Linked DNA regions of Homo sapiens. The protein of the gene in region 1 interacts with the protein of each later gene in a pairwise test. Each region holds a gene or a part of one and is shown on either strand. Other genes may lie near its edges.

Region 1 (4,006 bases):
AAATACGTGACATGGCTCTTACCAGTTTAAATGGTGTGGTTATTTTCTTTTTCTTATATGAATCTTTTGCTCAAAACATACCTACTCATTGTTTCCTGAACACATCATTTACTTTGCCACCTCTGTGATTTTGCTCACACAATTTCTCCAGTTCGTAACACCCTTAACACTCTTCTCTGATAATCAAAGACCTTGACCTTTAAGGCCAAGCCAAGTACCACCTTCAGGGTGAATATCTCCCCAAGGACCCAAGATTTCAGTGACTTAGTCTCTCACCTTCTATTATTTTTATGGTCTCTATCTACTTAGCACACATCCCATATACATTTTCTATTTAAGGATATATTCTTTCTTCCCAACTAGATTTTAAATCTCATGAAAACAGCAGTCCTATTTTATTTCCACATTTATATTCAATTCCTAATCTAATATATATATAATTATATAAAATTATATATATATTTTATATACGATATAAATTATATATTATATATAATTATATGTATAATTTTATATATAATTATATATATATATATATATATATATATATATATATATATATATCCTATCCTCTTGCCCGGGCTGGAGTGCAGTGGCATGATCATAGCTCACTGCAGCTTCGAACTCCTGGGCTCAAGCAGTCCTCCCACTTCAGCCTCTTGAGTAGCTGGGACTACAGGCATGCACCACCACTCCTGGCTAATTTTTGTATTTTTTGTGGAGACAGTCTCGCTCTGTGGCCCAGGCTGGTCTTGAATTCCTGGGCTCAAGCAATCCTCCCACCTTGGCTTCCCCAAGTGCTGGGATTACAGGAGTGAGCCACCATACCCAGCCATAACAAGTATTTAGTAGTTTCTAATGATAGTTAGATTTTTTGCTTTGATATCATCATCATAAAAGATCTGGGGCACTCTTCAAACCTAATTTAGGTTGTAATTGAATAATGAAGCAGTTAAAATATGACAGTAATATTTCCATCAAACTTAATCCTATACGTTACGTTAATGTATCTGTATATACATTTACCATAATGTACACAGTCATTAATTATACATGGTTGTTGCTGTATGTTAATGTACTATGGTTCAGTTTTCAAAGGCAAATGTTATAGTGCATTCCAGGACACCTGTGTCCACGAGATAAGTTCTTTGAAACTATATTTGGATCTGCAGGCTATTAAAAGCTTCTTGTACTGAGTGACCTTTCAGGCAGAATGTAGACTGAGCGCTCCTGCTACTGCTGCCTGTTGCTGAGAGGAAGACCGCAGAAAATTCTGGATTCAAACATTTATTGCTTTTTTTGTTTTGCTTTGTTTTTGTTTTCTTTCCTTTTGCCTTCAGAAGATGAACAATGAAACCACAACCCTGATATCCTTGAAGGAGGCAATGAAAAGGTTGCTGAGGGCTATAGGGAGGGAGCAAGCATGGGTCTGCTATTCTGGGAAGATGGGTAAGAGAAGAATGAAGAATAGAAATAAAGAACTGCAGACATGCTCATTAGAATTCTGTCTCTGTGGCCGGTGCGGTGGCTCACACCTGTAATCCCAGCACACTGGGAGGCCGAGGTGGGCGGATCACAGGGTCAAGAGATTGAGACCAGCCTGGCGAACATGGTGAAACCCTGCCTCTACTAAAAATACAAAAATTACCCAGGCATGGTGGCGGGCGCCTGTAGTCCCAGCTACTTGGGAGGCTGAGGCAGGAGAATCACTTGAACCCGGGAGGTGGAGGTTGCAGTGAGCCGAGATCGTGCCACTGCACTCCAGCCTGGCAACAGAGCAAGACTCCGTCCAAAAAAAGAATTCCGTCTCTATTACAGTGGTTTAAGTCTTCCAGGCCCAAACCTATGTAAATTAACAATAAAGAAAAGTCTGCTCCCAGGTGCTGTAACTCCATTGAATGTATGCATATGCTAAATCCTAGATTTACAAAAATAAGTAAAATGTGGTTTCTGCCCTCAAGGAGCTCACAGCCTGTAGGAAAGAGAAAAGTTTGAAAAACATTTACAATTTAATGTGACTGACCTTACAATGGTGATGTTCCTAAAGGTCTATGCGAACATGAAGGGAGGATCAACCAATTTTGCCTTTGACACTAGAAAAAGGAACTCTTCATATAGGGTCATTTAAGCTGGATCTTAAAGTGCAAGTAGGAGCTTATGAGGGAGAAAAATATGGGAAGGCATTCTAGGCTGAGGAAACAGTGCATATAAGCCATATGTAAGCTTGGAACCACATAATGTATTCAAGCAGCAACTAGATGTCTCGTGTAATTGGTAACTAGGATGGGTGAGGGGACTGGTGGAAGACAGGAGCAAAGGGTGAAGGCCCTTGACTTTCCTGCTGAGGAGATCCAGTTTGCCTCTGAGTATATCACTGGGCAAGCCAGGATGACATAAACCATTTGTAATCAGTTGAGTCACAGAATCGGAATTGTGTTTTAGAAGAATGTGTCTGGAGGATGGATGGGAAATGGAAAACGGGGGTCCAGTTAGGCTACGGTAATCTTGGGTCCTAGTGAAAGATGATGAGAAACTCATTTGATGGAGATGGAGAGGCAGGAATGGGTTAGAGAGACATAAATCAGGGGAAGAAAAAAGTTGAGAATTATTCTGAGATTTCTAGTTCAAGCAATTGATTGGATGGTGAGGTCATTAACGAAACTAGGGAACTGTACTAAAACAAAACAAAACAGCCTGCGCTGAGATTTGCATGTTGGTTGAGATTTATCTGGAACGGCCTCGGACTGTCCTTTGGTGAGAGGATTCCAAAGAACTGCTGCAACTGTAAATTTTTATACTGATTGACAAGCTAGACTTCTTCCCTAAGTTTCAAACTACAGATGACCTATAAGCAATATAGTCTTAAAGGTCTAAAAGTTAACACAAAATAGTATGCCAAATGGCTTTTTTTTTTTTTTTTTTTTTGAGACAGAGTCTCACTCTGTCACCAGGCTGGAGTGCAGTGGCGCGATTTCAGCTCACTGCAACCTCCGCCTCCCAGGTTCAAGTGATTCTCCTGCCTCAGCCTCCTGAGTAACTGGGACTACAGGTGTGCATCACCACACCCGGCTAATTTTTGTATTTTTAGTAAAGAAGGGGTTTTACCATGTTGGCCAGGATGGTCTCGATCTCTTGACCTCATGATCCACCTGCCTTGGCCTCCCAAATGGCTGGGATTACAGGCGTGAGCCACTGCACCCGGCCAACTTTCTTTTTTTTTTTTTGACACAGGGTCTTGCTGTGTTGCTCAAGCTGAGTGCAGTGGCATGATCACAGCTCACTGCAGCTTTGAACTCCTGGGCTGAAGCAATTCTCATACCTCAGCTTCCCCAGTAGCTGGGACCACAAGTGTGCACACCACCACACTAGGCTAATTTTTTATTTTTTGTAGAGATGAGGTCTCACTATGTTGCCCAAGCTGGTCTCAAACTCCTGGACTCAAGTGATCCACCCACCTTGGCCTCCCAAACTGCTGTGATTACAGTTGTGAGCCACTGCACCTAGCTCAAATCACATGGTTTTGACTTGTAGACAGAAATTACAGGCATATCAGGTCACACAGGCTTCTATTCCTACAAAATGAACATTTTATACTGAGTCTTATCTATGTGTAAAGCAGTGACAACATTTCTTCATAGTAATTTCTGAAGATGGGGGAGGTATTAGTAGGTTAAGCTTAGGAGAGTTGAGTTTGACATCTCCATCTTTGTGGAGATGCACAAAACATATTGAAAATACATCTCTAGGCCGGGTGCGGTGGCTCACGCCTGTAATCCCAGAACTTTGGGAGGCCGAGGTGGGCGGATCGCCTGAGGTCAGGAGTTCGAGACCAGCCTGGCCAACATGGTGAAACCCCATCTCTACTAAAAATACAAAAATTAGCCGGATGTGGTGGCGCCTGTAATCCCAGCTACTCGGGAGACTGAGGCAGGAGAATCACTTGAACCTGGGAGACAGAGGTTGCAGTGAGCCAGGATCGTGCCACTGTACTCCAGCCTGGCGACAG
Region 2 (3,500 bases), on another chromosome or scaffold:
AAAAAATAAATTAGCCCCGTGTGGTGGTGGGCGCCTGTAGTCCCAGCTACTCGGGAGGCTGAGGCAGGAGAATGGTGTGAACCCGGGAGGCGGAGCTTGCAGTGAGCCGAGATCGCGCCACTGCACTCCAGCCTGGGCGACAGAGCAAGACTCTGTCTCAAAAAAAAAAAAAAAAAGAAACCAACAAAGTGCAGTAAAACAAAAGAAGGCTGGGTGCGGTGGCTTACGCCTGTTATCCCAGCACTTGGTGAGGTCGAGGCAGGTGGATCACTTGAGCCCAGGAGTTTGAGACCAGCCTGGATAACATGACAAAACCCCATCTCTACAAAAAATTCAAAAATTAGCCAGGTATGGTGGCACACGCCTGTAGTCCCAGCTATTTGGAAGACTGAGACAGGATGATCACCTGAGCCTTGGAGAGGTCAAGGCTGCAAGTGAGTGAACATTGCACCACTGCAAGATACTCTAGATTTCTTCAGATTCTTTAAAGCGTCTGCATGGGACCCAGCCCACTATAGAAATCCATGGCACTTTTTCTTCTGAACTCTTCTGAATTTAAAACCTGTTAAGAAAAATCTCAGTATGAAACAGTACATTTTGATTACCTAAAAAACATTTCCTTATCCTTGTTAATGTAGCCATGAAGTTTATAACAATATTTTCTACAGGCAATATTTTCTCCTGGAAGTACAGGAGACTTCCAGGATTCAGGGCTGGAGCACATGCATGCATACACACACAAACTTCTCAAGCAGTGTAGATTTGGGCACTTAAATTTAGTTTAAAAAATCTCAAATATCAACACATTAAGTGACAAAGAAAAGGTGCCTGATTACTTGATTTTTAAAACAAAAACATGATCTAGGTCCCTTATGGACTTTCTTTTTACAGAATTTAAGAAGTATTGATGTGTTGACAAGTGAATTATTTCTATCAAAATTTGAAATTTCTAATAGTATACACTAATGTTTAACTATAACAGGTTCTTCTTGCAAAACGGAAACTGGATGGAAAATTTTATGCTGTCAAAGTGTTACAGAAAAAAATAGTTCTCAACAGAAAAGAGGTAAAATAAAATAGTTGTTTCTCTCAAGCCCATTTTCTCAATTAAGAGAGCTGTTTTCTAGTGTATAATACAATTGATCTTTTGCCTTTTTTCCAGCAAAAACATATTATGGCTGAACGTAATGTGCTCTTGAAAAATGTGAAACATCCGTTTTTGGTTGGATTGCATTATTCCTTCCAAACAACTGAAAAGCTTTATTTTGTTCTGGATTTTGTTAATGGAGGGGAGGTGAGTTTTATAATGAGTTTTCTAATGTTAATAGTTTAGAAAAATAGCATAAAGTCAAAGTTTTTCTTGTAAGTTTTAGAAGGACAGTATAAAATCAGTAGCTTTTTATAGCAATAATATTCAAGGTACTGGCTGAGTACAGGATGTGGAGAATTGTAACACAGAGCTTTTAAGCATATGGTATAGTTGAGAAGGTTCATAAAAGAACCTTGATATGAAGCTGCTGGCTTCATGGACAGGTTTGTCACTAAACTGTATAGCAAGAATAACATATTGAAATATTAGAATAAAATGTGATTTGTAATTTAGGCAATTATCTCAACAGTTGCATACAAATATTACTCCAGCTTCTCAGTTTCCAAGATGTGCAAATTATTAATCAGATGAGATAATCCTCTAATAAGGGGCTCTGTGGTGGTAGCTTGGCTCAGTGACTCGCACCTTTAATCTCAGCTACTCAGGAGGCTGAGGCAGAAGGATCACTTGAGTCCAGGAGTTTGAGGCTACAGTAAGCTATGATTGCACTGCAGCCTGGGTAACAGAACGAGACCCCATCTCTTTAAAAAAAAAAAAAAGGCTTTATGATAAAGTCTGTTTTGGAAATGTTTCATGTTATATCCATTTCTTGGTGATTCACAATATGCCTCAGCATGTTAAAGACTTCGAGAAATTCTGCCTTAAACAAAGTCAGGATATCTTTTTTTTTTTTTTTTTTTTTTTGAGACAGCGTCTCACTCTGTCACCCAGGCTGGAGTGCAGTGGTCACAGCTCGCTACAGCCTCAACCTCCTCAAATTGGATATCTTAAGAGAATTTTTTAAAACCGTGCAGTCCCCTTTTTTGTTTCAACCAATCTCTTAAGTATTACACAAAACTCTGATTCAGATGGATATTGAAATACACTTTGGGAAATGCTGCTATTACAATAATTACAATAATAACTAACTTCCATTGAGTATTACTTAGTATCCATCACTCTGGCTCTTTGTACATATAATTTTACCTTCACAACAATCTATAGTAAGACTGACTGAGGCACAGAGAAGCTAGGTAGCTTGTAGAAGTAATGTGGTTAGTATCAGAGGCAGGGATTGAACTGAGGCAGCCTGATTCCAGGATCTAGGCAGCTGACCTCTCAACCCTCACACCTTTCTAATTTGTTTGGTCTTTGAACTGTGAATGTCTAAAAAATTTTTTTAACTAATAGGTATTGTCATATCTTTACAAAGGGATCTTTCATTCCCCAATCTCTGAGCAGAAAATGACTATTTCAGCATTTAACTGTAGAAGAAAGGAACTGTAAGGAAAATTAGTTAATATTCTGCAAAACCGAAAGATGGTCAGACACACCTAGATCATTTTGGGGGAAGATTGTAAAAAGAATGATTATTCACCTTTCTACATCTGTCACAAAAGTCCCTTAAGGCCAGGTGTGGTGGCTCAACACCTATGATCCCAGCAATTTGGGAGGCCGATGTGGGTGGATCACTGGAGCCCAGGAGTTCAAGACTAGCCTGGGCAACATGGCGAAACCCCATCTCTACAAAAAAAATAACAAAAATTAGCTGGGCATGGTGACATGCCTCCGTAGTCCCAGCTACTCAGGAGGCTGAGGTGGGAGGATTGTTTGAGCCCAGGAGGTTGCGGCTGCAATGAGCCATGATCACACAACTGTACTCCAGCCTGGGTGACAGAACAAGACCCTGTGTCAAAAAAAAAAATTCCCTTAAGACTCTTCAGTGTAGAGGCAAGATTATCCATCTCTCAGGCATCCTGATTCATTGATGCAGGTGACCCCACATTGTTTTCACCTTGAAGGTTGTCGTTTAATTTTGTGTGTGCCCAAGTGCTGACAGATAAAGAGAATTTATTGAGGCTTGGCACTTTGCAATTATTTTACATGCATTATGTCAGTAAATCACAACTCTTTCAGAAAACACTATTATGCCCATTTAATTTGCCATGGCATTTATATTAAATGCCATGAAATTTTCTTTCTTATTTATTTATTGAGACGGAGTCTCTCTCTGTCACCAGGCTGGAGTGCAGTGGTGCGATCTCAGCTCACTGCAACCTCCAACTCCCTGGTTCAAGCGATTCTCCTGCCTCAACCTCCCGAGTAGCTGGGATTACAGGCACGTGCCATGACGCCCAGCTAATTTTTGTATTTTTAGTAGAGACGGGGTTTCGCCATGTTGGCCAGGGTG

What was found. Proteins that work in one complex are often made in the same cells at the same time.
Region 2: the proteins of SMCO1 (region 1) and SGK3 interact in a two-hybrid assay, tested with the Homo sapiens proteins (one large-scale study listed by BioGRID).

The regions. Positions count from the first base shown.
Region 1 is NC_000003.12:196,512,547-196,516,552, reverse strand, and holds the start of SMCO1 (single-pass membrane and coiled-coil domain-containing protein 1), read left to right. Parts: upstream 1-1,206; 5' UTR 1,207-1,343; coding exon 1,344-1,393; exon of another isoform or gene 1,394-1,423; coding exon of another isoform or gene 1,424-1,449; intron 1,450-4,006.
Region 2 is NC_000008.11:66,834,781-66,838,280, forward strand, and holds part of SGK3 (serine/threonine-protein kinase Sgk3), read left to right. Parts: intron 1-982; coding exon 983-1,066; intron 1,067-1,162; coding exon 1,163-1,294; intron 1,295-3,500. Other genes in the region: C8orf44-SGK3 (serine/threonine-protein kinase Sgk3), read left to right, coding at 983-1,066, 1,163-1,294.